Linked DNA regions of Homo sapiens: region 1 is linked to region 2. The links come from fine-mapping of genetic effects on gene expression. A gene starts in region 2. The other region holds a variant in brackets. All regions are shown on one strand. Distances are between the middles of the regions. Region 1 holds the start of NCF4 (neutrophil cytosolic factor 4). Region 2 holds the start of PVALB (parvalbumin).

Region 1 (15,755 bases), 40 kb after region 2:
AGTCAAGGACAAAGAGAAGAGAAAGAGCATCAATGGATGTGAGATGGTAATACACTGTGGAAGGCGGGATTTGCTTCGAGGAAAGGTAATATATTCAGAAGGGCAGCAAACCTACACAATGGTCAGGTGTGGTGGCTCAGGCCTGTAATCCCAGCACTCTGGGAGGCCCAGGCGGGTGGATCACCTGAGGTCGGGAGTTTGAGACCAGCCTGACCAACATGGAGAAACCCCGTCTCTACTGAAAATACAAAATTAGCTGGGTGTGGTGGTGCGTGCCTGTAATTCCAGCTACTCAGGGGGCTGAGGCAGGAGAATCGCTTGAACCCGGGAGGTGGAGGTTGCAGTGAGCCGAGATCGTGCCATTACACTCTAGCCTGAGCAATAAGAGCAAAACTCTGTCTCAAAAAAAAAAAAGAAAGAAAGAAAAGAAAAAGAAAACCTACATTACGCAGAGCGGAGCACCAGTGAAAAGAAAACCAATGAGCTCAGACCCGCCCCCGCCCCCCACCCCCCCGCCACAGGGTCCCCAAGGTGAGGGGAGCAGGTGGAGAGGACGACGGGGGTGCAGTGAGAGCCAGCAGCCCGGGGCTTATCCTTGAGCCTTCTTCGGGAAGTCGATTCTCTGAGGATGGCAGAGAGGAGAGTCTCAGGACACCACGGCCACCAGCATAGCGGAGGCCTATGAGTGCCCTACGGAGGGGCATGTGCAGAGCCCCTCATCCCCTGGTCATCCCTACACCTTCTGCCCTTCCGTTAGAGTCTGTAGATAGGGTTTTCGGGGGATAAGGGGCAGGTCCACGCCCTACAATGCAGGGCTCCGGGAGGTAGGGGTTTCAGATGGGAGTGTGTGGGGGCAGAGGAACAAGGGGAGAAAAGACCCTTTCCCTCCCTCATCAGAGAAGAAGAAGACTTTTGGAAAGACCTGGGAGGGGTGCTGGAGAAAGTCTAGATCCTGCTATTAAGTGGAAGGGGAAGTGGTCTGAGCATCAAACTTTACCCTGAGGCTGAAGCCCCTTCTAAGATCGTTGTGAAGCCCATTCTAAGATTCTAAAGATCACCTCGTGATCTTTCTTATCGTCCCCAGGGCTCCAGGGCACCCACCATAACACTCCTAATTCCATCATCTTAAGCACTTACTGTGTGCCAGGCAGATGTTCCATTTCGAACCCTTGTGATACCTTTCTAGTGGATGGCGTGTGGAGTCTTTAAGGAGAACTAGGAATTGGTTAAGCAGAGATATTGGGGGTGGGGGGTGGAGGCACTGGAATATGCAAAGGCCTGGGCACATTGGGGCTTGAGGGACCACCTGCCCCAGTAGTTTTAGCTGGGAGAGGAGAGGAATGAGTCTGGAGTTAGGCTGGAGCCTGGCTGAATGAGAGCGATATGGACTCGTTTTCTTAGCCACCGTGAGGCCTGGAGGGATGGGATGTGTGGGGTTAGTCATATTCAGGAAAGGCCTCCCAGGAGCTGGTGTGGATGACAACCCGCAGGACGGATGGAGGACAAGACCAGGTGGGCCACTGTTGAAATTATTCAGGCAGGAGAGGAGGAAAATCTGAATTTAAGCCCAGGCTGTAGGGATGGAGGAGGAGAGGCAGTTAGAGGGAACTTAAGGAGGTGAAATACATTCCTGACAGATCGGCTGTGGCAGGCCAAGGAGACAGGAAGGCCAAGGTGACTCCAGGTTTCTGTCTTCCGTAAATGGTGGAGACAGAGCTCAGGAGGAGGGGCCGCTGTGGAGGGAAAGGAACCACTGGCTTGGAGGGGCTCGGGGAACAGCTAGGGAGAGGTAGGGGGTCCAGGAGGCAGCTGGGACACACGGCCTGGTGCCCAGCGAGCGACCGCAGAGTCCTCGGTGTGCAGATGGTAACAGAGCGCTCGGGAGTAAGGAAACCCCCACTCAGAGTGCATGCTGGGGAAGGTGGCTGAGGTTGGAGAGGCATCTGGGAGGAGCCCCAGTCACAGAGGAGAAGCGGTGGGAGCAAGTGGCACAGGGGTTGGGGGAGCCGAGGCAGCATTGTGGGTGGTAGGTAATAGCAGAGGCCAGGCCAGGCGCAGTGGCCCACGCCTGTAATCCCAGCACTTTGGGAGGCCAAGGCGGGTGGATCACCTGAGGTCAGGGGTTCAAGACTAGCCTGGCCAACATGGTGAAACCCCGTCTCTACTAAAAATACAAAAATTAGCCGGGCGTGGTGGTCCACGCCTGTAATCCCAGTGACTCAGGAGGCTGAGGCAGGAGAATCACTTGAATCCGGGAGGCAGATTGCAGTGAGCCAAGACTGCGCTACTGCATTCCAGCCTGGGAGACAGAGTGAGACTCCGTCTCAGAAAAAACAAAAACAAAAAACAAATAGCAGAGGCCACAGCTGCAGAAGGACCCCAGGTGAGGGCTGGGGACAGGAGTACACTGAGGGCTGTGGCTAGGAGGTCACAGCTGGGAGCAGGTGGCCGAAGGGCCAGGAGCTGAAAGGCCAGTTACAGAACTCCCAGGACTGCGTGTTACAAAGCTCTCTGGTTCCTGGCTGTGCAGCTCCGAGAGAGTGGGGCACCCTGGGCAGTCGTCGCCACACTGTGGGCATGTAAGAGGGAAAGCTCTCCCCTTAACGTAGAGGGCAGAGCTCATGAGGAGCGAGAGATGCTTTTATTTCAATCACCTGGGTCCTGGCCTCATCCGGCAAGAGGGCAATGTCCGAGATCAAAAGCCCAGTCCTACTGCAAGTCTACCCACTTGCTTTGTCTCCTTCTTCACTCTCGGCCTCCATCCTCCCCTCTTTTTCTCCCTCCCTTCCTCCCACAAACCCTTATTGGTCCTGTTTTGGACACTGGTGATTCATAGATGAATGGGACATGGTTCTTGCCCCCAAATGTGCCCATGCTATGGAATCTTCAGCAGGAAGAGGTGAGAAGTGAAGACGCTGACAGAGGCTGGAATTAAAGTGACAGCTCTAGCTGGGGAGGGTGCTGCCCCAGCCTTCCAGGGAAGTCTTTGACCAGTTTTGAATCTTAGGTGATGCAAAGAATCAAATGGATGAAGAAAAGCCATAAAATCATAGAGATGGGAGGAAGACGGGGAGAATGCATCAGGAGAGGTCAAGTTGATGTACAGGACAATGAGCAGGCAGAGGAAGGGAGGAAGGCATGTCCTGGGGCCCGGGCTGGAGGGAGGGTGCGGGTGGGTGAGGGGCTTCAGAGTGCTGCAGCGCAGAGGAGGGAGGAGAGGGCTGTGGAAAGGGGAGGTTGCCATTCCTTTGTAGTTAATATTTGGAGGCACGACTGATTTTTGAATATAGTTTCATGCAGATGCTGGTCAGCCTGGAGCCACACTTTTCTGCTGGCTGTAGATTTTTCCCCTTTTGATGCCTTTAGGAAAATCAAATTCCAACATGTCTGTGCTGGATAAACTGCAGCTAGAGGAGCCCTCCTTTCCTGGGGCACTTTCAAAGGCAGTGGCATCTTAGCAGCATCAGGAACCAGAGGTAGACCCTCAGGGAGGAGGCAGCCCTCAGGCAGCTGCTCTGCCTCACCCCTCACCCAGGATTCACCTTCCTGAGCTCTTTTTAACTGTCGCAAGGTAGTCTCTTTGCTGTTAACTCTGGTGCAGCGTCCACACAGACCTGCTTGCTTTTATAAATAAAGTTTTATTGGAAGATAGTCATGCACATTCAACTATTTATTGTTTATGGCTGCTTTTGTGCTGTGACAGCAGAATTCAGCAGTTGTGACAGAGACCAACTCCCTGCAAAGCCTAAACTATTTACTATCTGGCGTTTTTTAGAAATTATTTTTCAGCTGGGTGCAGTAGCTCACACCTGCAATCCCAGCACTTTAGGAGGCTGAAGCAGGTGGATCACTTGAGGCCAGAAGTTTGAGACCAGCCTGCCAACATGTTGAAACCTCATCTCCACTAAAAATACAAAAATTAGCGGGGCGTGGTGGCAGATGTCTGTAATCCTAGCTACTCAGGAGGCTGAGGTATGAGAATGGCTTGAATCCGGGAGGCAGAGGTTGCAGTGAGCTGAGATTGCACCACTGCACTCCAGCCTAGGTGACAGAGCGAGACTCCAACTTAAAAAAAAAAAATGAAAGAAAGAAAATGAAAAGAAAGCATTTGCCAATCCCTGCTCCAGTGTACTGGGTAGGGTACAGGTTCAGCTGCTGTAACAAGCATCAAAGAATCAGCTGCTAAAACACAATAGAAATTTCTTTCTCCCTGAAAAATCTGAACAGAAGCAGGGTCAGAGATCCAAGCTGTTTTGTTGCTTAACTGTTCTCCATAGCTGGCCTCTCCAGCCAGCTGGAAGGGGAGATGGGAAATGGAAGATACACCTTCTGTCTTTCACGACACAGCCTGATAGCATGTCCATGGCCTCCCCTCCCATTCTATTGGCCAGCAACTGGTCACATGGCCACAGGGAGCTGCAAGGTAGGCTGGGAAATGTTCTCTTTAGCTGGGTGGCCATGAGTCCAGCCACAACTCAGGGACTTTATCACTAAAGGAGAAAGGACAGAGTGGATCGTAGGGGATATTAGCAGTCTCTGCTACACCTTATCAAGAAGAATAAAGACAGAGTGCACAGGGGAAGGATTTGGCATTCCCTGCAGAGTATTAGAAAAAAATTTGTAACATGCTCAAATGAAGTAGGTATCAATAACGGATATAAAATACCTCCTTCTTCCACTTCCTCCCTCAAATATTTATTAAGCCCTCATTTATATTAGGCTCTATTTGGATGCATTTTGCAGATAAATAACCTGAAGCTCGGAGTGCTTGAGGGAGATGTCTGAGAGTTCATAGCCAAAGAGTGAGAGCTCTTTCTGCCTTATTGCCTTGCTTCCCTTGGGACACCCTGGGGCTGGGAGCTGGGCCTTGCAGCCTGCTAGGCTGGCTAGGTTTGGTGACACAGAAAGCAAATGAATAATTTTTAAAGTGAGAATTCTATAAAGGAGACTGCTTGAACAGATTCTGTTAGACTGAAAAGGCAGAAGGAGACACCGAGGTCACCAGAGATAGAAACTTCAGGAAGCAGCCATCACCCCTGCGGCTGTGGGAACGGAAGGAAGAGAGCGGGGTTACGCTAGCCTGGAAGCTTGGAGGAGGAGACTTAGACCTGCGGGGAGGAGCTGGGACTCAGAACTGCAGACCTCTGAGGAGGGGGTGGGGTGAGACTGGCTCTGGGAATGTGAAAAAAACTAAAACCTAGAATCAACTGCTGCTGGGCCAACATGGCTTCCAGGGCAGGGCAGTTGGGTCCCGCCTGCAAAGAGAAAGAAGCAAGCCCCTCCTTCCTCTCCCATCCTTCCGGCCTCCCTCCAGCGCCCCCTCCTGGCCAAGGGCAGCGGAAATCAGCCAGCAAAGCAGAACAAACAGGGTTTTGAGTCCCAGCTCGGGCACCACAAAGCAGAGGGTAGAAGAAAGGTTTGGAGCTGGGAGAAAATCATTTAATAACCAGCCCCAAGGCTATGACTCATTTAGACCCCCAGTCTGTGCAGACCTGGGGCCACTGCCTCTGAGCCAGTGCACACCGGGTACTCTGGAGCCTCTGTCTTCTGATACATGGGTCAGGGGGAATGCAAAATGATTCAACCACTTTGGAAAACAGTTTCCTTCTTTTTGTTTGTTTGTTTGTTTGTTTGTTTGTTTGTTTGTTTGTTTTTAGACCGAGTCTCGCTCTGTCGCCCAGGGTGGGGTGCAGTGACGCGATCTCAGCTTGCTGAAATCTCTCCTGGGTTCAAGGGATTCTCCTGCCTCAGCCTCCCGAGTAATTGGGATTACAGGTGCCCACCACCATGCGTGGCTAATTTTTGTATTTTTAATAGAGATGGGGCTTCACCATGTTGGCCAGGCTGGTCTCGAACTCCTGACCTCAGGTGATTCACCCACCTCGGCCTCCCAAAGTGCTGGGATTACAGGCGTGAGCCACCACACCCGACCTGGAAAACAGTTTTCCTATAAAGTTAAATATGCATCTACCATATGACCCAGCAACTCTCTCTTAGATATTTACCCAAGAGAAATGAAGGCACATGCTCACTCAAACATTTATGCTTGATGTTTGTAGCCCCTTTGTTTTAACAGCCCCAAACTGGAAAACAAAAAAAAAACCCTAATGTTTATGAACTTGTGCATGGAAAACAACTTATGTTATATCCATACAATAAAATACTACTTGACAATAAAAAGAATGAATACCGATGTACATATCAACACTCATGAATTTCAAAAGCGTTATACTATGTGAAAAAAAACAGGCACAAAAGATCACATACTCTGTGGTTTTGTCCGAAATTTCAGAAATGGCAAAATACTGTGATAGAAAGTGGATCAGTCATTGCCAGGGCCTGGGGGTAGGGGAAGGAGATTGGCTGCAAAGTGTCCTGAGGGATCTTTTGAGATAATGGAAATGTCCTATATAATGATTGTGGTGCTGGTTACACAACTGTCCAAACCCATGGAATTGTATACTTTCAGTTGGTAAGTTTTACTGTGTGTGAATTGCACCTTGATAAAGCTGATTTTTTAAAAATTGAAGTAGAACGCTGTTAGAAGTGGTGCTTCCTCCCCTTGTTTCTAATGCCACCCTCTTGCAAGCCCATATCCAAGTAGTGGACCAAGGCATCTTATAAAAACATAAATTCAATCATATCACTCCTTGTTTAAAACACTTGAATGGTTTCTCTTTCCTCTTTGAATGAAATCCTGAGAATCACCATGACTTACAAGCCTATCTGTCCTGCTCACTGACCCTGACATTTGGAGGGCCTAGAGCAATGGGACAGAGGCCCATGTACCACGATTCTAAATATGTACAGTTAGGAATCAAGCCAATCAACTGCTAAAAAGTAAGTTCTATCCTTCTTTGATAAATGTACCTTCATGATAAACTGGAAGGCCAGGTTCAAATGTAGAGTTTGGAGTTCTGTCCCAGAATGTAAGGTTAACGAAAGGCAGACGCTAGACTATAGCCTACTGCCATTGCCTTTCCACCCCCGGATCCATCTGAAACCTCCAGGCTACCTGCCAGGCCGCTGTAGACATTTGTGTCCATAACCTCTGGGGACCAAAGACAGCACTGGAGATGGAATCAGAGAAACTGGATGTGAAACATGTATCTCTTGGTTTTCCCCAAATTGTACTTGATTCTGTATGTGTGTACATGTTTGAGCATGGGTATGCATGCACGTGTATATTTGCATGTGTGTGCATGCATGTATGTGCATTTCTATATGCCTGTGTGTACATGCATGTGTGTGCAGGTGTACATGTACATGTGTATATGTATGTGTCTCTGTGTACATGCCTATGTGTGCATGTGTATATGTACATGTGTATGTGTATATGTGCCTGCGTGTGCATGTGTATATATGCCTGTGTGTGCATGCATGTGTATGTGTTTATACATGTTTGTGCATGTGTATGTGTGCCTGCGTGTGCATGTGTATATGTGCCTGTGTTGTGCATGTGTGTTTATTTATGTACCTCAACAGCAGTGTGAGCTACCTGAGGGCAGCAGTTGTGCTGAATTCATCTCAATATCCTTTCTACCTGGTGCAGAGTGATACTAGATGAATGCTTGTGGAGTGAATAAATGAATGAATGAGGGCCAGTACAGCAGTTATTAAGTGTGGGTCTTGAAGCCAGACTGATGTGAGGTCCAAATCTTACTCTGCCGGTCATTAAGCAAGCCGCTTTGGTTTATTTTCCTAATCCCGTAAAGCCTGGGTTTCCTTATCTCCCGGTGGGGATAAGAATACCACTATTTTATGGGGGTTGGTGTGAGGATTAGGTAACAACAATCAGAGCCAACATGGACCAAGCCAGGCTGTGGGCCAGGCACTGTACTAAGGGCTTTGCAAATGCTAGCTCTCGTGCTCCTCCTGGCAATTTCACGGTGTAGGGGTGGTTACACAGTCAACTCTCAGAGTGACTTGGCTGTTACCGTATTTATGATGGTGGAGAGGAGATTCAGGATTCTTAGCCCCTGGGGGAAGCTTCCCCTGAGTGCAGCTCAGATTCTGGCTGATAGGGCTGTCTGGAGAGGTTGTCTGAGCCAGCAGGCTGCGCGCTCTGCCTGGCCAGCTGCAACTTGACTCTCGACTTGGCCGGGTCCTTCTAGTGCGGCTTATAGCATTCAACCTCCTCTAGGTGGCGCTGCGGAGCGGGGACTCGGCTGCTGATCGCGGCGCCCCCTGGCGGTCTGTTCCCGTCAACATTTAGATTAAGCGCAGAGCCGGTTCCGCCAGGGAAGTGCGCGTCCCGGTGCCCCCGCGTGATGAGAGCGGATGACAGATTGCGGGAAAAAGTTAGAATGTAACGTTAGTTGTATGACAGAGAGGACCAAGCTGTGCAGCAGAGGGAGACAGAAAAGGGAGGGACCAAGCCACAGCAAGGAATGATCGTCAATAACATTAACGTCTAGAATTTATTGACCACCTGCTATGCGCGAGCCACTGTCCTAAACATCTGGTATTCATTCCCTTAGTTAACACACCTCTAGTAAGTGCGTGTCTCAAGAACAGTGTCTGTGTTTCATTTAGGGCCTAGCACACAGTGGGTGTCTGGCACATAGTAGGTTCTCAACACATTTGGAAATGAATAATACAATAATCCTGCAATTTTTCTCTCCAATTAATAATGTAGAGGCAAATATTATCTCCATTTAGAAAACTGAACAATGGTCGGAGAGTTTGCACAACTAATGCGTGACACAGCGAGGGCACACGAGGTTTAGACCCAGCTCAGCCGTGTGCCAGGGCTTCTCAGAGAAGAGAAGACCCTCTGCCTTCAGGGAGTTTGCTGTCTAATTGGCCACGTCTACACCCTCCCTGCCTGGGTGGCATGCCAGGGATGGCTATTTATGGCTCAGGGAGGAGGTCCAGTGAAGTTCCCCTCATAAATTATAAAGGGAGACACATGTGGGTCAAGATTGGGGAATTCAGTGTGTGAGGGATCCCCAGGAATCTTACACTGTCCAATCAGGGATTTTCCTTCTCTTACCCTGGAGAGTGGCTGATGTAGGCAGTGGGGATTTGCTGAGTACCTATAATGAGCTCTCAAGGGTATCTCCTGGTCCTGTAGAAGAGGCTCACCTCCTCCCTATCACAGAGTTCCAGTTCCTATGGCTGGAGCTCTCAGCCCCAGCCGCTGGCTGCTCAAAGGAGAGTTTCCTCATGTCCAAAATGGGGGCTATGGTTTATCTTGTATACCCCAGCACCTGCATGAGGAAGGACTGAAAAGTGCTGTGCACTTTTGTGATTCGCACATCCAGTCCCCATTCAGGCTCTGGGGATCCCCCAGGCATGGTCTTGGTGTATTAGACTTTTTCCTGGAGATGTGATTATGAATGGGCATTAGTAAGTGGTGTTATGCAGAGATGCCCTTCTCTGAATGGCCTCTGGTATTTGTTTTTTGAGTTCTTGAGAACATATATATTTTTTGGTATTCCATGGTCTTTATCATTGTCAGGCTGTCACTGAACTGTCGCTTGCATTTGGCTGCCCCTGGTAATTTTCTTCCTTCCCCTAACTCACTGCTTCAAGTTCTTGAGTTGGCAGGAAGAGAGGACCAGGCTCCTTTTATATTTCTTCTGTGAATAAAATATGCCAGTGTCAATGCATAGACTTTGAGCTATCAATTCTAACCATTCAATGGCTTTTCTCTTTTTTTGGTTTATTCACAGGCTGTGGGATGTGGAGGTTATCAAAAATCAGGTCTCCATAAGTGAGAGGTCACTTCAGGCATTTCTTTGCACTTATCCAAAAAAGATTCCATCCATACTTGTTTAATGGAACGTGTGAAGAGCTTGGCTCCTCTTCCAGGTCATCCCTCTGCCTCATTCTCCCCCTGCAGCAGGAGCAGCAAGAGCCCGGTTCTGGAGTGGGAGTAGAAGGTACAGGCATTGCTGCAGCGGCAGGACAGGAGCCCATTGCTGACAGAGTGCCTGGCCTCAAATTACACTGTATCAGAGCTCGGGCATAAAATTGGCAGCAGCGTTCTGTGTATGAGGAGACAGAGAAATACCTGTATTCAGCAGAACCACGGGCAGGGACAGAAGAAAAGGAGAGAAAGAGGGGAGGAGGGGAAGAGCTGGCCCGTCGCGGGCTCTTCCCTGGACATCTTTGTCCCCCAGGTGCAGAGGTGGCTTCCCAGTGGCTGAGTCAGGGCCACAGGAGGTTTCTTGGGGGGTTGGGGGGGCCGGGGTTTGGAGGGCAAGCCATGAAAATACCTGGGAAGGTAAACTTGAGGGCTTAACCCACCTGAAACACACACATACAGATATACACACTGAAAACGATTAAAAAAGGAATAAGAAATGTCCATGTGTCTAGGCACTTTTATACAGTTTTCTATTAATTCCTACTACAACTCCATTAGGCAAGACTGTTTCACAGATTGGTGAAGAAGAAAGGTTCAAAAAGGACATGTTATCTTGCCTGAGTTCACCTATTATAAATGTACTTGTGTTTATACTCATTTGTCACCGACTGCAACCTAAACATCTAAACACATTCTCTCACAGCCACAATGCCACCACTATACACATTATATGGTCTTTTATAGACACAACACAAATGCACTTACACTTGCCTATGCGAGCTGTATGTGTTTATACACAAATATGTGTTTCCAACTATAGGCATATACTACACACACAGTTTACACAATCACCTACAAATTCTGTATCATGCTTGCTTGCTAAAATTGTTTTGCCACTTCCTGTCCTTCCTGACCAACTGTAGGCCAATGTCCTCCTCTTCCCTCAGTTATGGCTGTGTGCTTGCACCTGTTGGTACTTACAGACACCTGCACTAATAACCCTGCTCTGTGTTTCATTTCATCCTCTAGCCTGGGAGCCCCGAGACACCAGCAACTCATCAGACTTATTGTTTGTATTATTTCTAGTTCTTTGGGTGTGAATTCTTCATGATGTGGAGGCTCTGAGCTGTCTTTCACAGCTCACGATTTGTAGTTTTGGTCTGTGAGTTGACAGAGTAGGCCCTGCAGAGTCACTGACTCCAAGCTGTTTTTATATAATGCCTCAGCTTAGGATTTCTGCACCACGTGGGTAGCTTATATCGGGGCCTTACACCAGTGCAGAGGGCAGGCTTGAGGCTGATCTGGTACACACGTCCCTTGTTCCACCCATGGACTGTGAGAGGACCTCAGCTCCTGCCGTGACTCTAGGCTGATGGCTGAGAAACTCTGTTCCCATAATCAGTTCTGACACCCACTTTACACTGAGAACTCAGATTTGACTTTCTGCTAACAGCAGGACCTGTGGCCTGTACCTAGTCCCAGATTTGGCATTAAAATCTCAGCCCAACAATGCATATCCAATCTTGGTTTTCCCATGGGCTGTTGGCCACGTTCCTCTCCCCCTGGTATAGATTCCTGACCCCTCTCTTTGATCCTACCTAAAAATTATGCTTTCTTGTTTT[T/C]TTTAGCTGGGACTTGTATGTTTAAAGTAGTTTAAAACAACTTTCTGCTCTGCATGTATGAATACGAGTGTGTGAGCGTGTGTAGCTGGCAGGGAGTTACTGGGTGTGGCTGTGCCAATGACTCCTGTGGACCTCTTCTCAGAGAAGTCCCTTCAGAATCAAATACCCATACCTGTTAGGAGCTGCAGTCACTGACTGGCAGCGTTTCATTCATTCACTGAATATTGGTTGAGCACTTGCAATGTGCCAGGCACGCTGCTAGCCAAGGAGGCAGTCATTAAACATACAGATAAACAAACAAATGTGAGATGACAATAGTTATGAGTGCTCTGCAGTAGACGTGCAGGGACCTGTGAGAGAATGTAGTAGGGAGGGCCTTAATTTAGGGTGTGTGGTCAGGGAAGGCCTCGCTAAAGATGTAGCTTCTAAGCTGAGATGCAAAGGAGGCAGTGAAGAGCTTTTTCCAGCAGAGGGAACACCATGAGCATAGGCCTTGGGGCGGACGTCTTAGAACATTCTAGAAACGGAAAGGAGGCCAGTGAGAAAAAGGGAGCTCAGGAGCAGAGGCTGGGGAAGGCTGCAGGGCCTCAGGGGCATTGGAGGCAGGCAGGGCAAGGACTCTGGACTTTATCCTGAGCACAGGGTGATGGGGCAGGAGAGTTTAAGCAGGGAGGGTGAAACTCACTCTGATTGGCAGCCCTGTGAAAGAGGATTGGCTGGGCATGGAGATCTAAGGATGAGGAAAGGATATCCCAGAGTGCCAGGGCGCGCAAACCAAACTTCACACTCTAGGAAGACAGAGGCCAGAGGAACCAGGAGGGCTTCCTGGAGGAGGTGGCATTTACTCTGGGCCTAAGAGATCACAGGAAAATGGAGGCCAGCATTCTAGGCCTGGGGAAGAGTTTGGGCAAAGGCTTGGCAGTAAGAGAATAAAGGTGGGGCTTGATGGGCCAGAGGATAAGTGACTCCTCAAGGTCACAAGACACCCTGATGGCTGGGACCCCATCTCTGATGGAGCAAGGCTTCTGATACCCAACTGAGGCTTGGCGCCAAGGACTGACATCAAGGAAGTGGATTCCTGCAAACCTGGCACCCGAGGGTCCACTTCCTCAATTTCTGTGCAGCTGGGAGGTGAGGTAAGAGGAAGTGTGGGCCACAGGCTAGGCCCAGAGAGCCTGGAGGAGGAGCCTCTGCCAGACTGGAGAGAAGCAGGCCTGAGCCTCCCCAAAGGCAGCTCCTGGGGACTCCCAGGACCACAGGCTGAGACGAGACGCAGGGTGGCTGGAGGAAGTGAGAGGTGAACTCAGCCTGGGACTGGCTGGGCGAGACTCTCCACCTGCTCCCTGGGACCATCGCCCACCATGGCTGTGGCCCAGCAGCTGCGGGCCGAGAGGTGAGTGCCGGGGTGTGGCCGCCCCCGGGCCTTCTCACTGCTCCTCATAGGCCTTAGGGACAAAGGCCAGTCCTTCTGCAGTCCCTGATCAACATGAGAGGCTGGGGTTGAGTCAGAACCCAAATACTCAGAAATGCAACCTCTCAGAACTGCTTTAACGAAACTTTGAGCTGTGGCTCACCACCCTCAGACACAAATGAGAACACTGAGGCTCCAAGAGTGGGAGTGACTTGCCCACGGTCACACAACGAGTGACCGGCAGTGTCTGGAGAGGAATGCAGGTGTCCTGGGTCCCAGGCTGGGGCCCTTTGCTTCACATGGTGATCAGCAATGACTTTCCATCTTCTGCGCAAACAGAATTCACAGAATCTGGCTTGTTCTTCCGCTAATCAGGGCTTGCCTCAAATGTCACCTCCTCCAAGAAGCCTTCCTGACAGCCCCTACCTCATTGCTGTCTGACCCTTTGCCCTATTTCCCTTTTCTGCCTGGTTCTTATATTACAGGAATAATATTATATGCTCATTTATTATTTTTTCTTGAACGTTGGCTCCCCCATGAGAAGCAAGCTCCACGAGGCTGTGTCCGTTTTGATCGCTGCTGTATCACTAGGAGGTAGCTCATCCCTATTGAGCACCAGGACCAAGGGCTCAATAAATGTTGCTGAATGAATGAATAAATGAATGAATGAATGGGTGGATCTTTGAGACGGAAAAGGTCTTAGATTCTTCTAGTCCAACCTTGCCATTGTACAGATTGGAAATCTGAGGCCCAGGGAGGATAAGAGACTTACTCAGGGTCACAGAGAGTGACTGGCAAGGTTGGGGCTTGGAGCACGGCCTCACCAGCATCTAGCCTCGTCGCTTGGGAAGCATTTTCAGAATTTTTCCTCAGTAGCCAGGTCTGAGCTCTAAGCTGCGGGGGCCCTGAGGACGCAAAGCCTGGCCCCTGCACCCCCTGGATTGGAACAGCAGGTGACCTCTGTTACCTACGTGGAGGCCACTCAGGGGGTCACCAGAGACAGGCCAGGCTGGTGTGTGCCTACGCGGGGAACAGAAGGCCCATGTTGGGGCCTGGGGCTGGAAGTAGAACCTGAAGCGTGGGTTGGGGCAAGGGCAGCAGAAGCAAATGCCTACAGGGGAGTCCACGTGGCCTTCCTGAGCCTCAGAGCGGGGTGCAGGAGCTGGGTAAGGCTGGCCGACCTGAATTCCTTCCTCCCCTCACATGCTCCTGGGGGACCCAGCCGCACGCAAACTCGAATCTTCCGGAAGCAGCAGCTGTTTGAGGCTTGGGCACTTCCTGCTTTCTGGGGTACAGGGTTCAGGGGATGACACGGAGAGCTGACCAGCAGGACTGTGCACTCCCTCCCCCACTCCCTGTCCCCTTTCAGCTGCCTTAGCCCTCAGAGGGGGAGGGACTGCTTTTCATGAGGCCTTGAGCCAGGTACTAGGGGCATGGGGGCTCCCTGTACCTCGAAGGTCTTATCTGAAAGCGAGCCTGGATTGTTCTGCTTAAGGTCAAAGCAGAGAGTACAAGGAGAGGGCGCAGGTTCGCGCAGCGGGGACTTTCTAGAACCCCAAGGTGAGACATCCAAAGATGGGGAGGGCTGCCTTAGGGGTGGCAAGTTCGGTTCCAACAGACATGTTTTGAGCACCTACTATGTGCCAGGTGCCAGAAAACCTGCCCTGGCTGCCCTCCAAGGGTTCTTCCAACCTCGGCCTCCCCCAGGGCAGGCTCCAAAACCTCCCCCAGGCCAGGCTCCAAAGTCTGTGAACTGTGCGAGTGTGTCTTGAGCCAGAACATCCCGGCCCAGTAGGGCCTGGGTGAGGTCCCCAAGGGAGCGGATATTCCAGGGGACTTCCGGTTGGGTTTGCTGCTCTTCTTGCCCGCCCCACAGGCAGCCAGGCCATTCTCATGCTGCCCATCAAAAAACTCTATAATTGCAGACGACGGTAGTGGCCGTGTATTGAGCAGTACTGAGCACCTACTGTATGCCGGGCTCTGTTCTGGGCACTGGGATGTAGGGTGAGCAGAGTCCTTGCCCTCATGGAGATTTTAGGGCTGTGTTTGTTACAGATGGGACTGCATGACCACCCGGAGACATAAGTACTTCTCCTGTCCCCATTTTACAGAGGAGGGAAGGAGCGGAGCACAGCTAGGAATCTTCCCAAGGGAGCTTGATCTTCTTGTCCCCAGTGCTGCGCCTATGCCTCGAGCATCTGCCAATGTCTGTCCTGCTTGACTCCTTCCTCAGCCCCCACCACCCCAGGGAAAACTCGAGGTCCCTCTGCGAGGCATCAAGGCACCTCGTGAGCGGGCCCTGCCTGTCTCTCCGACTGGTCTCTCATCACGTTCCACCTCCTGCTCTGTGCTCCAGCCATGCTCAGCAACCTGCGGTTCCCTGAACTGAGCAGCTCCATCCAGGGCACATGTTGACTTTGTTTACATCTGTGACCCAGGGCCTAGGACAGGGCCTGGTATGGAGATGTTTGATGCCTTATTCCCAGGTGAATCTGTGCAATTGACAGCAATGTGTTAGACTATAATTTGGCTATTGCTATATGGTCACCAGCTTCCCATTCCTACACTCAATATGGCCACCAGCTTCCCATTCCTGCACTCAGTATGGCCGCCAGCTTCCCATTCCTGCACTCAAGGCCTGGGCTGTGTCTTGTTATCTCCGTATTCCCAGGGTCAGTGGCTGGACCTGGCCTGGGAAGGGGTGCTGAGAGACGAATGTTGGCTTCACAACATTAGTTTGCTTTGCACTCTACCTCATACCCGGTGGGCCCACAAAACACATCAGGGTGATAAGCAGGATCTCTTTTCCCCTCCTTCGCACAGTGACTTTGAACAGCTTCCGGATGATGTTGCCATCTCGGCCAACATTGCTGACATCGAGGAGAAGAGAGGCTTCACCAGCCACTTT
Region 2 (15,925 bases):
AGACACACTTAAAGCAGAGGGCAGTGGATCCATCGCCGGGAATGGGTTTCAGGAAGAATGTAACTAGGACTGCGTGCAGGCACGTGTGCACACGGGGCATGCGGATCTTCTCTGCAGCAAGATATTAGGAGTCAAGGTTTGAAGAGGGCCCTGAGGCTTCACAGCAAGTCGCTCTGCTTCCCGGGGCCTCAGATTCCTTGTATGTATCAGTAACAAAAATATCTTGTAGAGCTGTTGGGAGGTTTGAATGAGTTAAAAGATGTAAGGCCTGTGTGCTGTACTTGGCACACAGGAAGTGGGGATGAATGCTAACCTCGATTCCTGTTGGTCAACACACTCTGCGGGGGCAGGCATTGAGTTTGGAAGGCCCAGGCTGGGGACACATGCTCGTGTGAGGCAGGATGGCAGAGGGTCCTGGCTGGACCACCGAGCCTCAGTTCTAGCTCTGCTACAGAGAGACCCTGGGCATGTCACTTCTCACGATGCCTCAGTTTCTCCACTTGCAAAATGGGGATAGTGACGGCATCTACTTCCTAGGATTATTGTAAGGCAGTGGTCTTCTAAGTGTGGTTCGCCAGATCATTAGCACCATCTGCTAACTTGTAAGAAATGCAAAAGTGTGGGCTCCACCTAAGGAATCAGAAACTCCTGGGGTCTGGCACAGCCATCTGTGTTGCCATAGGCCCTCCAGGTGATGCTGACACCCGCTCCCAGCTGGAGACCTGTTGTGAAGGTGAAGTGTTTGAAAAGCCACCTGCCACATAGTCTGCTTTGTCTGCTTTTTATGCCTGGGCTTTGCAACTGCAGGTGCTTTAACAAAGATTTTTTTTTGGCACCCTTCACCTCTTTTTCTAGCTTCTCTTTCCTTTTCAGCCTTAAGCCCTCCCCATGTCAGCTCTGCACCAGCCTTTTAGGGTGGCCTTTGAGAATGAATCAACCACATCTATAAAAGCCTTTGAGCTTCCTGGAAGTAGTTGCCCCAGAGACGGGAATGCAAAGGGTTATTATTAGAACTTTGTCTTCCTACCCCCTCCCTTCAATACAGGATCTTCAAGAAACTGATAAGTATCACTCACCTTCAGAAGGACAAACAGAGCAGGGAAGAGAGGCAGTCCCTGGTTTGGGCTCCCTGGCACCTGCTACAGACAAGTCTCCACAGATCCCCAACCTTGGCTTGCAGATCATCTCCCACTACATACAGCAGTTATGATCCTCATCACTGCACAGTGCTGCCCAGAGCTGGGTACTTGTTCATTCATTCATTCATTCATTCAACCAAATACACTTTTCTTTTTCTCCCACTATGGGCCAGGCCCTATTCTAGGTGCTGGGATTAGAACTGAAAAAAACAAAGTTCCTGCTCAGTGGACCTGACATCTTAGTGGAGGAGAAAGAAATAGGCAATAAGTCAATAAATATAATCATCTTATAGTAAATTAAACTATGAATGAATGAATGAATGAATGAAGCAGGCAGCACAGGTCACGTGCTTCGGAGCTCAAAAGACCCGACTTTCAGACTTTGATCTTTTCTCTTCCTAGCCTAAAGGGTTTATGCAAGCCCTTAGCCTCTCTGAGCCTCAGTGTGCTCATCTATAAAATGGGAATCATAATAGTATACACTTCAGAGATAGCTAGGAAGATTAAATGAGTGAAATGCTAAGCACGGTGCCTGGCACATATTGAGCGCTCTATGAACTTAGATGCTATTGCCATCATCACTCAAGGTCACGCAGCTGAGCCAAAATAGTGAAGTGGTCTTCTGTGTAGAGGTTTATCCACTGAGACATCTGTGAAATCCCGGGGCTGGAACGCACCCCAGTAATTGGCTAGTGATCTGCCCCATGTCCCATGTTTTTTTTTTTTTTTTTTGGTTTTTCGTTTTGTTTTGTTTTGTTTTTGAGATGGAGTCTAGCTCTGCTGTCCAGGCTGGAGTGCAGTGGTGTGATCTTGGCTCACTGCAACCTCCGCCTCCTGGGTTCAAGTGATTCTCCTGCCTCAGCCTCTTGAGTAGCTGGGATTACAGGTGTGTGCCACCACGCCTGGCTAATTTTTGTATTTTTAGTAGAGGTGGGGTTTCACCATGTTGGCCAGGCTGGTCTCGAACTCCTGACCTTGTGATCTGCCCGCCTTGGACTCCCAAAGTGCTGGGATTACAGGCATGAGCCACTGCGCCCGGCATGCCCCATGGTTTTAAAGACAAGGCACTTTATGGTCAGAGGGGCTCTGGGACATGCCCCAGATCCCGCCAGGAGTTGAAGGCATCTTCCAGCTATAGGTGGGGCTCGGGCCTTCTGGCCTTTAGAGAGAGTGACAGCAAAGCAGAGTATCTGAAACAGAACGTCCTGGGCCCCAAAAAGGCTCTGCTTCCCATCTCGCTGCCTATTGGGCATCATTGCACCCACCCTTCCTGCGTTAGGGGGTTGGGAGTGAGGAAGGGGGCATCTGCATCTTCCCACCTCAAAAGCATGAAGTGTGGGGCCCCAGTGCCTCAGGGTGGTCTGTGCTCATTGTCTATTTTATGTCTTGCCTATGAGCTCAATGGAGGCTGCACAGGTGGGCCTGGACCATGCTGTTGGGTTTGAATCCTGGCCCTGACACTTGCTGGCATTGTGACCTTGCACTCACTCCCTGGGCTGCCCTTTCTACATCTGCACTTATGTCCTCTGTTGTCCCAAGGTCAAATGAGGTAACCAAACCCAGCACTAGGCTGGACACACATGACATGCCCAGCTAATAATTCTTTCCTCCCATTCTTGGCAAAACAATCTTCTTGCCCCTTTCTGAACATACCCAAAAGTTTCCAGCCTTGGCTGATGCCAATACCTTGCCTGGACCCCACTCCCTCTGTCCCCTACAGCCTGTGGCTTAGCCTCCAAGTCCGTACAAAATGCCTGATGCCTGCGCCTCTGCCTCTGGCTGGCACTATCGCTTGTTTGTGTATATGTGTAGAGCTGCAAGCAATTTGCAGACAATAAAAATGACATTGCATGGCCGGGTGCAGTGGCTCATGCCTGTAACCCCAGCACTTTGGGAGGCTGAGGTGGGCGGATGACTTGAGGTCAGGAGTTCGAGACCAGCCTGGCCAACATGGTGAAACCTCGTCTCTACTAAAAATACAAAAATTAGCTGGGGATGGTGGTGCGTGCCTGTAATCCCAGCTACTCAGGAGGCTGGGGGAGGGGGGAATTGCTTAAACCCAGGAGGCAGAGGTTGCAGAGAGCTGAGATTACACCACTGCACTCCAGCCTGGGTGACAGAGAGAGACTGTCTCTAAATAAATAAATAAATAAATAAATAAATAAATAAGGCATTGCAGTGGCCATTTATTGAGCATTTGTTATGTGCTGGGCACTACAGGCCACATTTCCATGTTATAATGCCTAGTTTACAGATGAGGAAGCTGGGGCTCAGGGCTAAGGAGTAGCTGCTCAGGGGCACCCAGTCAGGAAATGGGCCTGAATTATTTTTACCTCTTCCATTGCCGGGCACAGAGTTGCTACTCAGTCAACATCTGCTGGATCTGTTAGAAGAGTTTAGTTGATGCCTTAAGATCTGAGTGTGGCAGGGAGGGAGGGAGGGAGGCAGGGAACTGGGCCAGGTTTGGCTGGTTTCTCTTCATCAGGTAGGTTTTCTGTGAGCAGTCAGCCATGAAGACCCAGCCCAGGGCTTCTGAGGTATGGCATATTGGCTGCAAATAAAAATGGAAGGCAGGTCTGGAGGCCAGGGTCAGGGTTCAGATGGGAGCCAGGCCTTGGGGTGGAGCTGTCTGATAAGCAGATTGGTGGGGATGGGGGTGTGAGGGAGGATCTGCCAAGCACCAGAAGCCCCAGGAGCGGCCAAGCCAATGATGCCTTTCCAATACCCTCTGCTCCACTCCTTTAAAACCACCTCCCTCCTTCCCAGCCACAAGAAGGGCAGCTGGCATCAGATGGCCAGGGGACCCCCTGCATTTGACCTGGATAGGGATTCTCCATTCTCGTTACTGGCAGGAAACAAACAAACAGAAAAGAAATCAACAACAACAACAACAAAAAAAACCCTCTAACTCATAGGCATACACCTACTTTCATAATCCTTGTACCTTTCCCAAAGCAATTTTGGGTTCACAGAATCTTAATTTTCACAACAAGCCCAAATAGGTCTTAGGAGAAGCTGATGCACCCCATTTGCCGGGCAAGGGAACGTAGGTGTGCAGAGGTGACGTGTTCAAGGTCACAGCTGGCAAGGGGCAGAGAAGGAGCAGAGCATGGGGGTCTGGGCTTTACACTCAGGCAGCGGATGTTTATGAAGCACCTGCTCTGTGTGGGGTATTGGCTAGATACTGGGGCTAGAAGGATGAATGCAACCCAATCCCTAGTTTTAAGTTTTACATCCACTTATATGTTGGATGTAAGTGGGTAGAACGTGAAGATTCTAGACAGAAGGTACCCTTGCGAAGGGACCTAGTTTTAAAAAAATTAGCTAACAAATACATATATAACATTTACTCTGTGCCAGACACTGTTCTAGGCACTTTACATATTAACACATCTAACCCTTGTAATCACCCTGTAAGAATTATCATTCTATTCAGTTCAGAGATGAGAAAACAGAGGCTCAGAGTAGTTATCAAATTACGCAAGGTCACACAGCTCGAAAGTGGTAGGGCTGGGATTTGAACCCAGATAGCCTGGGGCCCAGAGGCCAAACACCTACACACAGTTTTCTCTGAGACCAGCAGAAAAGCCTATTATGGGAACAAATGGCAGCTTAGTATGTTGCAAACACTCATTCAGGCCTGGTTCTAAATCCCCACTCCACCGCTATGTCCTAGCTCTTTCAACTAGGCTAAGCACCTTCAAAGTCCATTTGCCCACCTGCAAAATGGAGATAATTCCGGAGAAAATCATAAGCTAAGAGAGATAGCAATGTGGGTGTGCTCCATGAATGCCACACAGAGCCAAATGGAGAAAGGAGTGGACGGTGGGCCACTGGTCTCTCACCTGTGCTGACATTGAAGCCTGCAAAGCAAGGCAGGGCCAGGTATTCCCTGTCTGAATTCCCCACTGATTTCTGGTTTACTGTTTTTCCTGGCTCTGCTGCAAGGCTAGAATAGTATATTTGAGTAAAACCCAAACAGGTTTTGAGACTTGGGGTTACAGGACACCAGGACAAGATGCTGAGGAGGACAGGAGATAGGAATTTCCATCCCTGGAATCTGAGGATGTGAGAGGCAGAGGATCCTTGGGGATTAGTCGGCCTCATTTCGTTGGATTAGAGATGGGAGACAGAGGCCCAGCGATCGAGAGACACTGCCCAAGGTCACACAGCCAGTTTGGGCAGAGGTTGGGCCAGTATCCATGCAAAAATGCAGGCAGAGTTCAGGAAAAAAAAATCCCAAATCCTCCTGGATCCCCTACCCAGCAGGAAAAACAGAATCTATTCCTTTTAGGTTTTCAAATTAGGAAAATACACCAGTTTTCCTTTGTCTGGAGTATGTGGCAGAGCTCTCAGACCTAATGGACTGCTTTTTGTCTTCTAATCTGGGGGAGTGAGGGACCCCCATATCATCCCTTCCTTGTGACAGACATAGCTTCAAACTTTTCGCATCCAACACCCCAAGATCCACAATATGCCCAGACCCCAGGTCACGGCTACCCACCGTCAACCCCAATTTTGCCGTCCCCATCTTTGTCTCCAGCAGCCATCAGCATCTTGGTTTCTTTAGCAGACAGGTCTCTGGCATCTGGGGAGAAGCCTTTTAGGATGAATCTGGAGGAGAAAAGGGAGAAAGCCGGTGAGGGAGTCAGGCCGAGGTCGCCTTGCAGGACGCTGGATGGAGGGTGGTCTGGTTTCTGTATGGGGAAAGGGATGGCTGGGACAGGCAGCGAGCAGCAGTCACGCACACGGATGCTCTGGGCCAGGTAGCCTGCTCGGTGGCTGTGCTTTCGTGGGTGAGTATTTAGGAAAGGACAGGCTGTCCTCAGTGAAGGGTTGTCCTCACTTCAGGGAGGGCACCTACATTCGTTAATTTATCCAACAAGTATTCACTAAGTGTCATTTCTGTGTCTGGCGTATGCTGGAAAGTGGGGTCACAGTGGTGATCTTCGGAAGGCACTGGAAAAAATAAGGAGGTCACGGGCTCCGAGAGAGACCACACAGTGTGATGGGCCGTGGAGGAGGGCACTCAGAAGCTGTATCTGCCCACCTGCGGTGAGGGGAGGAGAGGGGAGGCTTCCTGGTGAAGGTGATACCTGGAGGACAGGGGGAAGTCAGCCTCTGTGAGTGTGTGTGTGTGTGTGTGTGTGTGTGTGTGTGTGTGCATAAGTGTGCATGCATGTTGGATGTAAGTGGGTAGAACGTGAAGATTCTAGACAGAAGGTACCCTTGTGAGATGGTTTAGGGGAGAGACAGGATGGGTGGGGAAGTCCCTACTTGAAAGGCCTCTCCCTACACCCACCCCCCGCTTCTCTTTTTGACAAAACTCAAGGCTTTCTTGGCCAGAAAGTGACATAAGGCAACCTGAGTCAGTAGACATGGCCGGGTGGCTGAGGGAATTATGGTGGGAGATGCTTTTGCAGATGGAGGCATGCATTTTCCTAGCCACAGCCTTCTCCTTCTCTGCTTTTCTCCAAGGACCCCTGGACTCTCAGAGGTGGTTCTGCATCCCTGGCTTGCCTAGAAATTGCACCAGCCACACTAGTACCAGAGGGCTGGGGGCTGCAGGAAGGTGGAAAGTGTCTTTTAGACAAATGAAAATCAATGAAATACTCAAGTGAATGCTTTCTGCCCTGCCTATGGTGTTAGGCAGCAAGAAAACTGCCTCTTCATTTGCATTAAATTATTAAGTAGCAACATTCCATTAGCAATATTAAGTGGCTATCATTTAACCTAGTTAGTTGCACTTTCAGCTGAGGGTTTTACTCTTCCGAAGCAATAGCACCAGGAAGCCTTCTCCCCTGGTGCCCTGGGTCGGAGCCCTGCCTTCACGCACGGTTACTTTCTGTGAAGCAGGCAGAGTGAAAGGCAGGTCTGATGGACACTTGGAAGCTAGAGTCCCAGCCCCCACTCCCTCTCGTGCAGCCGTGGGCTGGGCAGCCCCTGCAGGCCTCCGCTTACCCCAGCTCATCCTCCTCGATGAAGCCACTTTTGTCCTTGTCCAGCATGTGAAACACCTTCTTCACATCATCCGCACTCTTTTTCTTCAGGCCGACCATTTGGAAGAACTTTTTGTGGTCGAAGGAGTCGGTAGCTGTGGGGGGAAGAGCAGGGTCAAACAAGGACCAGAAAGGCTGGTAGGGAAGCCTGGGAGAATGGGGGGCATCAAGGCATTTGTTGATGGATTCCCACATGCCAGTCATGGGGAATGAGAGGTACCCACCTCCATTGGAGGGCTGAGGGAGCCCGGGCAAGGGAGGATAACCTGTCCAAGGTCACAAGGCTGGGAGTGGAAGAGGTGTGCTCAAACCCAGACCTCCCTGGCTCTCAAGCCCGCCCCCACGCCCCACCTCCACTGCACCCATTGCTGATGATGGGAGCAGCACCTAAGAACCAAAGGCTTTTGTTCTTCTGAGAACCTTGTGCCCAGGAAGACTTTTGAGTGCCAGCTGGTTGGGAGTGGGCTGGGGAATTGAAGGGGGCATGAACATGGTCCTGGGGTTAGGGGGAGGAGGGTTGACCTTCTTTCTTGGCCACAGACTTTGTTGCCAGAAAATTGACATAGAAAGGACAGGTTTCCCTCAAGGTCATACAGTGGGAGGAGGAGGGGCAAACCCGGAAGTCCTGGCTCTGCGCAGAAATCCACTTCGGAGGCAGTGGGAAGGGGGTGTTAGGAGGCTCCCGAGAAACACCCAGTTAAGTTTCTTCCCACATGGGCTTGAGGTGAAGGGAGAGGGTTATCCCAGGACCCTGGGAGGGTGGCTTCCCAGAGAGGTTCTTGTGCCCAGGGGAGGGGGTGCAAAGCAGAAAGGAAATGGGGGTCCTTTTCTACCTGCAATTTTCTGTATCTTGGGGTCCTGTTTTAGAACACCTGGGGAAGGGTACAATGTTAGATCATGTATTTTGTGTGTGTGTGTGTGTGTGTGTGTGTGTAGGGAATGGCTGTTGAAGTCATGTTCTCTTCCCCTCAGCACAGGGCTAGAGACAAGGAAAGTTGCCCTGTCCACCTCCGACACTAGGCTGGGCAACCCAGTTCTAATACCCCTTCTGCCCAGCTAGGTGACCTTGGGCAAATGTCTTGTCCTCTCCAAGACAGTTCCCTGATTTCCCCATCTGGAGGACAGGGGAGGAGGAAGGCGGGCAGCTTAGCGCTGAAGTCCCGGGCAGCTGGGAGAGGTGAGACTGCCAGTTCCCCTCCCCTGCCCGCCTAAGGAGGCTGGAGGTTTGAGGCACTGAGGATGCCCCGTGCGGGCTTAGGCAGAGCTGTGCGCCGGCTCCAGAAGGTCACCTCGCCCGCAGGTCCGTTGCTGAATCTCAGTAAAGGAACTAGGACAGTCAGGGGGCCAACAAAGGCTACCGCCTGGCGGGAAAAGTCCTGTCCAGAATGAGGGTCCAGGAAAGGGGTCTCTTGGAGAGGAGGATGCCCCCTGCAGTCCCCTCTAAGTGCCTTAAAGAGGACGTCCAGAGAGCTCGTACAAGGACCCTGGAGGTCTCTCCTCCGACCCTGGTCTTCGCCCTTGGTCCCGGACCCTGAGTCCTCCCAGCCACCGGGCCTTCAGCACCCTCAAGTTTCTGTAACTTAGGCGGGGCGCCCTCTTCCCCGCCCGCTCCCCGCGCCAAGCCTCGCCCGGACAGAGTTTGGGAACTGCCAAGGACGCCCCCGCCCCGACCTCGCCGGCGCCCAGCGGGAAGTGTGGGCAGAAGCGCGCTGGGGAGGATCCGCCGGCTGCGGGGCCGGCGGAGTGCAGGGGCGCGGGCGGTGGACGAGGGGAGAGGGATGGGGAGGGGAGCGCGCTTGCTCACCGCTAAAGGCTCCCACCGCCTTCTTGATGTCCTCAGCGTTCAGCAAGTCTGTCATCGACATCCTGCAACTGTTTGAGCGGGCAGAGCAAGTGCGAAAAGATTAAAAAGTGCTTTTCTCATCATTTCTGCTCATATGACCAGCGCTGCAGTGCTGCGCGCCGGGCGCACGCCCGCCGGGCCTGGCATGGCGCCAGGGGCCCGGACTCTGAGCGCAGCGGGAGCGGCTCAGTCCAGCCGCGCCGCTGAGCAGCGCCGGCCGCCGGCAAGAAGGCGCGCGGACCTGCTACCACTCCTGCACCGCCAGGCCAGGGGTCCGCGGGATCCCAGGGGCTGCGGCCAGGGCACGAGGGAAGGGGCCACCTCTGGGATTTAGGGGGCACTGGCGTCACCAGCTGGGTCTGGAAAGTCCACCTGCCGTCAAGGACACGCAGGAGGTGCGCCGTCTCAGATCTGGGAACCTTGGCGGATGTCCTGCCGCGTGGGGGAAGATCCTGAACCTTCAGCGGCCAGCCTGCACCTCAGGACCTCCTAGGCCCTGCTCCCTTTCTCTCTCCACTCCTACCTCAGCCTCTGCTCTGGTCTGTCCTGGATGCAAATTTATGCTGCAAAATCTGAGCGCTGAGGTCCTGAAACCTGACCCACCCGACGCAGGGAGGAGGTGGCAGGGACAGGGACAGGGACAGGCAGGAGCTGCTGGGGCCCACTTCGGGTGCCCCATCCCACATCTGGCCAGGGATGCATATTCTAAAACCTGATTTGATGTTTTACTTTTATTTTTTATTTTTTTGCTGGCTTGATTTTTCGAAGAACACTTCTCAGATCTCTACTAACTACTTGCTTTCCTGGTCTCCTGGGTCCTGGCATCATGGGTCCAGACTCCCCCTACTCCTATAAACCTTTTTTGGGCAGAGTAGGGTGGGAGAGTCCGCTTGGAATTGCTATGCTCCCTCCCAGAAAGCCCCATATGTGTTTGGAAGAAGGGTAGCACCTTCAGACCACACTTTCTAGACAACCTAAGCAGGTGTAGGGGTCTGAACTTCACCTCTGGAAAAATGTCACGGTGCCTATCTGTATGCAGCCAGAGACCCGTTGTGTTCTTCCCCATGGTTCCCAAGGTTTCAAGCTGCAACCAGCTGCTTCTAGAGTGTGTGAGCGCTGGACAGGGAGTCAGGAGGCCTGGGTTCTAGATCCTGGGCTGCACTAAGTCCCAGTGTGACCTTGGGTTGTGACCTTCTCTGGGCTTCTGTCTCCTTCTGATGTGTTGATGACGTCAGTGGTCCCATGTAGTGGGACCTGGGGACTGCAACTTAAGGTATTGGCAGGTAGGCAGGGCCTTGGGCTGTGGTGGCCCTGGGTGGTGGGGACCAGGGAGAGCAGCTGTCCAGCTGCCCAGTAACTCAAGTTCCCTGACATCGCTGTCAACATTGTCTCCTGCAGCTCAGCCCTGGATGGCTGCCCTTCCTGGAAACCTTAGGATACCTCTGCTGGCTCCAGCTGCCCCCTCCCTGTGAGTCAGCTCCTTCAAGCCACAGCCCGCCAGATGGCTTCCAAGGCACCAAGGATGCAGCTCCTGACCTGATGCCTCTCAGCTCCAGGACTTCCCAGGACCCCTCAGCTGCCCTGGACCCTGCTGCTACTGCCGTCACCTCTGCACCTTGTCCCCAGCTGGGCTGCTGACTCAGATATGCCAGGCTCCTATGCTATCATTTCAACTCCCAGGCTCAGCTCACTCCAGGAGCCTAGTTGGAGAATGGATTTCCCCAGCTGAAGGACGCTTCAGCTATACCAGTGGAGAAACGGAGGCACAGAGTCCGTGAATGGTCTAAGGACACATGGTAAAGCAATAGCAGAGCAGGGTACACCCCTGGACTCACTCGTGTGGAGTTCAGTGACTCTCTGGGTGATCCTCCCTGGTGCCTGGGACCCAGCTCTATCAGGTCCCATACATCTCAGCCACACACTGGCTCCTGGTGAGCCCCTAAGCAGCTACCCTGTGGCAAAGGCTGCAGCCTCAACAGGGGCCCACTCTTCTTCCATCTCCTTCCTCCATCTCTCCCTGCTGCTGAGTTCTCCTATCAACTTGACACCCCCTCCGGGACTGAGCCCTCCCAGCCAGAGCATCAATGTCATTAGGTCAGCCCATCAGCCCTGGGTAGTCCTCCTCTGCCCTCTGGGTCCTCTCTGATGGCATCACCAGAGTCCACAGATGTCTGACTCCAGCCCTCTCGTTCTAAGGCTGGGGAATCTGAGGCCCAGCCACGGGGGGCGGTGGGTGGGGGGAGTTTGCCCCAGGCCACACCAGGAGTCTGGGTGGAGAAGCAGGAATGCATGCTCTCAGCCCTACATTCCACAGCTGCCCTGCCTCCAGCACCCCCACCGCACCCCCCTCCCCGGGTCACTACGGACAGGGGAGATGTAGCTCTCCCTTCCAGCTGGCTCATCCTGCTGCATCCCTCTATCCTCCAACCTCGGTAGCTGCCACTCACCTCGGGTGGGGGTGGAGGGCTGGAGCCTGCACTGAAAGGCTGGGCTGGTGGGAAGTCCTGTCGGGAAGTGAGCCTGGAGGTGGGATGGCCACCTATATAGGCTTCTGCTCTGGCTATTTTGGGAGGTGGCACTCCCCGTAGCCCCGGCCCCCTCCCCTTCCGGTGTCAGGTACTCCCCAACCGTGGTGCTGGGTGTCTGTATCACATTCAGCCTCCCTGGGCCCATCAGGCCAAGACTATTAATAACTCTTGGCCCCTGCTTCCCTCCAGCACCCAAAATTGAGGCCCAGGCAGGGCTCGCCTCTTCCATGAAGCCTTCCGTGACCACTGTAGATGGCAGCGATGCTTCCTTCCTCCATATTCTGCCAGGAAAGGAAGAGAAACAGCAAGGAAAAGAATGAAACAAGAACTGTCCTCTGTGCATGGGGCTGAGCCCCATTCCTATGCTGATATGATCTCTCACTACAGCCTTGCCAGGTAGACATAGCTGCTCTCGCACAGATGAGGAAACAGCATAAAGACGTTAGATGTTAAGTGACCTGCTGCTCAAAGCCACGGGCCTGGGGTTGGGAGCGGACTCAGCACTTTTGTGCGAGGATCTAGTGCCTGGTAGAAGGAAATGTTCCGCATATTCTCAGACAAGTCCCTTCCTCTCTCTTTCTCAGTCTTTCCACCTGTAACATGAGCTCAATCAGAGGTAAACTGTGCCCTATAGATGGTCTAGGGCGAGGGGAAGATGGACCCCCTGAAATTGTATGCGTGTGACATTGAGGCACAAAGGCCCAAGCCCTTCATGATTTGCAAAGAGATCTCTGACATTGTCTGTTTTGGATTGGAGAGGACCAGCTGAGGGATGTGTTTTGAGAAGCATGAATGACCAAATGAATTCAATAAATACGTAGTGAATATCTAATCTGACCACCATGAAATGTTCCTCTCCTCATCCCTAACCTGAAAAGAATCTCCAGGGCACGAAGATTGTCAATGGTGGGGTCTAGTTCTTCACAGTGACACGAGGAATCCCAGGCTCCATGCAAAGGCTGTTTGGAAGCTCCATGGATAGAAAGGGCCGAGGGCAGGCTGCATGGGGGAAGCTGGGACTGGGGCCTCCTTGAGGTGTGGTGCTGGGGCCTGAGCTAGGTTGCTGGTGGTGGCAACAGGAAGGAGTGTGCAGATAGGGGAGCACCTCTTGGAGAGAAGCTTCCAGAATTGGGGCTGTGGCATGAACAAGAGGGACAAATCCAAGCTGACCCTAAATATTCAAGGTGGGGTTTGCTGAAGAAGGAAGGTGTTGACTTTGAAGGCAGGGAGTGTAGGGAGGAGGTAGTGCTCAGTCGAAGGGATGATAGAGTAAGTGGTGTTGAATCCTAGGATGTTAGGGCTGGGACAGCCTCCGTGGTGATCGGCTACAAACTTCTACAAATGACATCATGTTATAGATGAAGAAACCAAGGCCAGGGTGACTTACCCAAATCCCCCAGAGAGTAGTGGAAGAGCCAAGAGCTGATGCTGGGTTTAGGGGACCTGAAGGACACCCTGGCGGAGATGTGTCTGAACTCTGGAGTGAGGTCAGGGCTGGACCCTGGGGGCTTTGTCATCAGAGAAGTCAAGGAGTTGATCTCGTCAAGTCGTGGGCATGGCTGAGCTCAGGGAGCCGGGATGCAGGAGAACCTTGAGGATGAACCCTTGAGGAAGATCGCTGGCTGGGGCCTGGGAAAATAATTACACTTGTTTGTTGAACAGTGTGCTGGGTTCTGTGTGCACAGCATCGCACTTTGATTCTTGTATCCCCTTAAGAGGTAGGCAAAACCCTCTCTTTTTTACTAATGATGGAAGAACAAGGCTCAGAGAGATTGGGCAACTTGCCTAAGATCACAGAATGGAGGTAGGATTTCAGCCCCGGTTCTCTGACTCCAAAGCACTTGCTCCTTTCTACCACACTATCCTGCTTCCAGAATAAGACCGGAAGACGGGAGCAGCACCTACTGTGGGTGAATTCTCAGGAGCCCAGATGGCCTTCCTCTTTGTCCCCATAGGTCTTCTTCATGTACCTCTAATTAAGCAAATCTGAATGGGCTGAACCATATCGTGTGTGTGTGTGTGTGTTGGGGGGGGGGTGCATTTATTGAGCACCTACTGCGTACCTAGTGCTTTATGTGCTTTATCTCAGACGTTCGAAGAAATAGAATCTCAGAGAGGTTTAGTGACTTACCTAAGGTCACACAGGTAGGAAGTAGGTGGGAGAGCTAGGATTTAAACTGAGCACTTCTGATTCTGGAGGATCTTTCCCCCTACAATACTTAAAGTAGGGTAGAGATGTCCTAAAACCCGAGTCATATATCTGGAAACATGATCTAGTTTTTTTTTTTTTTGTTTGTTTGTTTTTTTGCTCTGAATCTGTGCTGATTGAAGCAGGCTTCATTTTATTAATTTGGTTAATTATACAAGGGCCTTGATGCCAGAAAATGGGTTTATCAGTCAGGTCTGTTTTTGCCTGTAAGTGATGAGAAAGTCTGACTTGGGCTGGCTTAAGACAGTGGGGGATTTGCTAACTCGTGCAACTGAAAAGTCCACGAAGGTTCAAGCATGGTTTGATCCAGAACTCAAATGCTGTCAGGAAGATGCTGTTTCTCTTACTTCTCAGCAATACCTTGTGCCACTCTCTCAAACTGGTTGACCCCTGAGGGTGGCAAGATGGCTGTCCCTGCAATGCTACAAACTTTCAGGTCCAAGTCCTTTGGGGGAAAGGGAGTCTACAGCCCGAGAGTTTGCTCAAAAGTCCCAGAGCTATACAAAAATTAGCTGGGCGTGGTGGTGTGTGCCTGCAGTCCCAGCTACTCAGGAGGCTGAGGCCGGAGAATCTCTTGAACCCGGGAGGTGGAGATTGCAGTGGGCCGAGATCACGCCACTGCACTCCAGTCTGGTGACAGAGTGAGACTCCGCTCAAAAAAAAAAAAAAAAAAAAGTCCCAGAGCTGCATTCACTGGTTGTGATGAGCTCAGTTTGGCCCATGTCATCCCTGAACCTGTCACTATTGATTACAAAGGGAGCACAGGCCTGTGGCACAGGATACCCTTCAGGCTTGGAGGAGGCAGAATGTCAACATCATTGGAATGGCCTGGAGAGGGAGACTGTCCCTGGACAGAGAGGTGAGGGGCTTTGAGCAGTCAAAGCCCACGAAGTCATTGTTGAGGTAAGTCCCTGGGGGCTGCCCAAGTGTGCCAGGCACATGGGAGGTTCATGCCCTAAGTCCTTGGTGAGTGTAATGACAGTTTGCCTGCATCAAACTTCTAGAGCATGATTCACTCTGAGGCCCAAAGTTGCTTTCCTGGACTTAAGTCCCCTCCCACCGACCCAGGCCCATCCTGCTCTGCGTGAGACCTTACAGACTCCACCCGCCTAGGACCTCTGCTTAAAGGCAGCAGCAGTGCCCAGTGGAATTTTCCTCTAGCTTCAGGGTTTCTTACTGTGAGCAGGGAGGAGGACCCTGAGTAGCTAGCAGATGCCGCAATCTCACACTGACGCCCCCTTCTATCCCCTAAAATGAGGCGTGGTCTTTAGCTGATCACGTTCACATAGTTCCAGTAACATATATGTTACCAGAGTGGATCCCACTATCTTTTTCTTTTATACAGATGAAAAGTTTTTACAGATGAACCAAACTGAGGTTCAGAGAAGTCAAGTCACTTGCCCAAGGTCACGCAGTTCGCCAGGACCAGAGCCTGGTCTGTCTGCCTCTTCTCACATCCAGTGCTCTCCCTGATGCCCTCTCTGGCCTCCCAGCTGGTGGAGGGGAGGAGGCCAGTGTGTGCGGGCCAGCAGTCTCTCAGCTGCCGCCTGCCAGGAGATAAGTATTCAGCTGTTAGCTTCGCTGCTGCTATTTCATGAGTTCACACTATTTCCACCTGCTGTGGCTGGGAACAGGATACAGAGTTCCCCACATCCAGGGCCCCGGCAGGCTGGGTGGACATCGCAGGATCTAATGATATCGATGAGATCAGCCCTGTGGGATGATGTGTATTAACTCAAAGGAATCTCGGCTGCATTCCTGAGAGCCGGATCTCAGGAAGCCTGTGGCCTTGTTTCCCTTTCCTCCCCTTACCCATGCTTAAGCACGATTTCCTCCGGAGAGAGCGGCCACAGGGAACACAGTCGTGAGGATGGCAAGGGCAGGCAGACAGACGGCCCTGGGTCCCTGCCCCGGCTCCACCCACTTGCCCACTGTGTGATCCTGAGCCAGTTGGTTCACCTCTCTGGGCCTCAGTTTTTCCACCTGTAAAATGGAGCTAAAGAGGAAGCCGTGGTGAATACTAAATGAGATCGTGTCTGAGAAAGGCTATAAAATCCGACACAAATGATAATAGGGTTGCCATTGTGAGGAGCAGAACTTGATCCTGGCCTGCCCCTGAATGAGAAGACCTGGAATAGCTTTATGGATAGAAACATGGAGAGCCAGGGGTGCCGGCCTCTGAAAACCGCTGACTCTCCAGGAAGGTC

The links.
Region 1: its variant is fine-mapped to the expression of PVALB in whole blood (INTERVAL, PIP above 0.99).

Annotation. Positions count from the first base shown.
Region 1 is chr22:36,848,375-36,864,129 of GRCh38, forward strand. NCF4 (neutrophil cytosolic factor 4) reads left to right here and starts at 12,632. Exons shown (of 10, transcript NM_000631.5): 1 at 12,632-12,829; 2 at 15,671-15,755. The coding sequence starts at 12,798. The region is part of intron 1 of NCF4-AS1 (NCF4 antisense RNA 1); the gene reads right to left. The variant T/C (reference allele first, on the strand shown) is at 11,437.
Region 2 is chr22:36,808,003-36,823,927 of GRCh38, forward strand. PVALB (parvalbumin) reads right to left here and starts at 9,033. Exons shown (of 4, transcript NM_001315532.2): 1 at 8,943-9,033; 2 at 7,101-7,233; 3 at 5,644-5,753. The coding sequence starts at 9,003. RefSeq lists an enhancer at 1-125.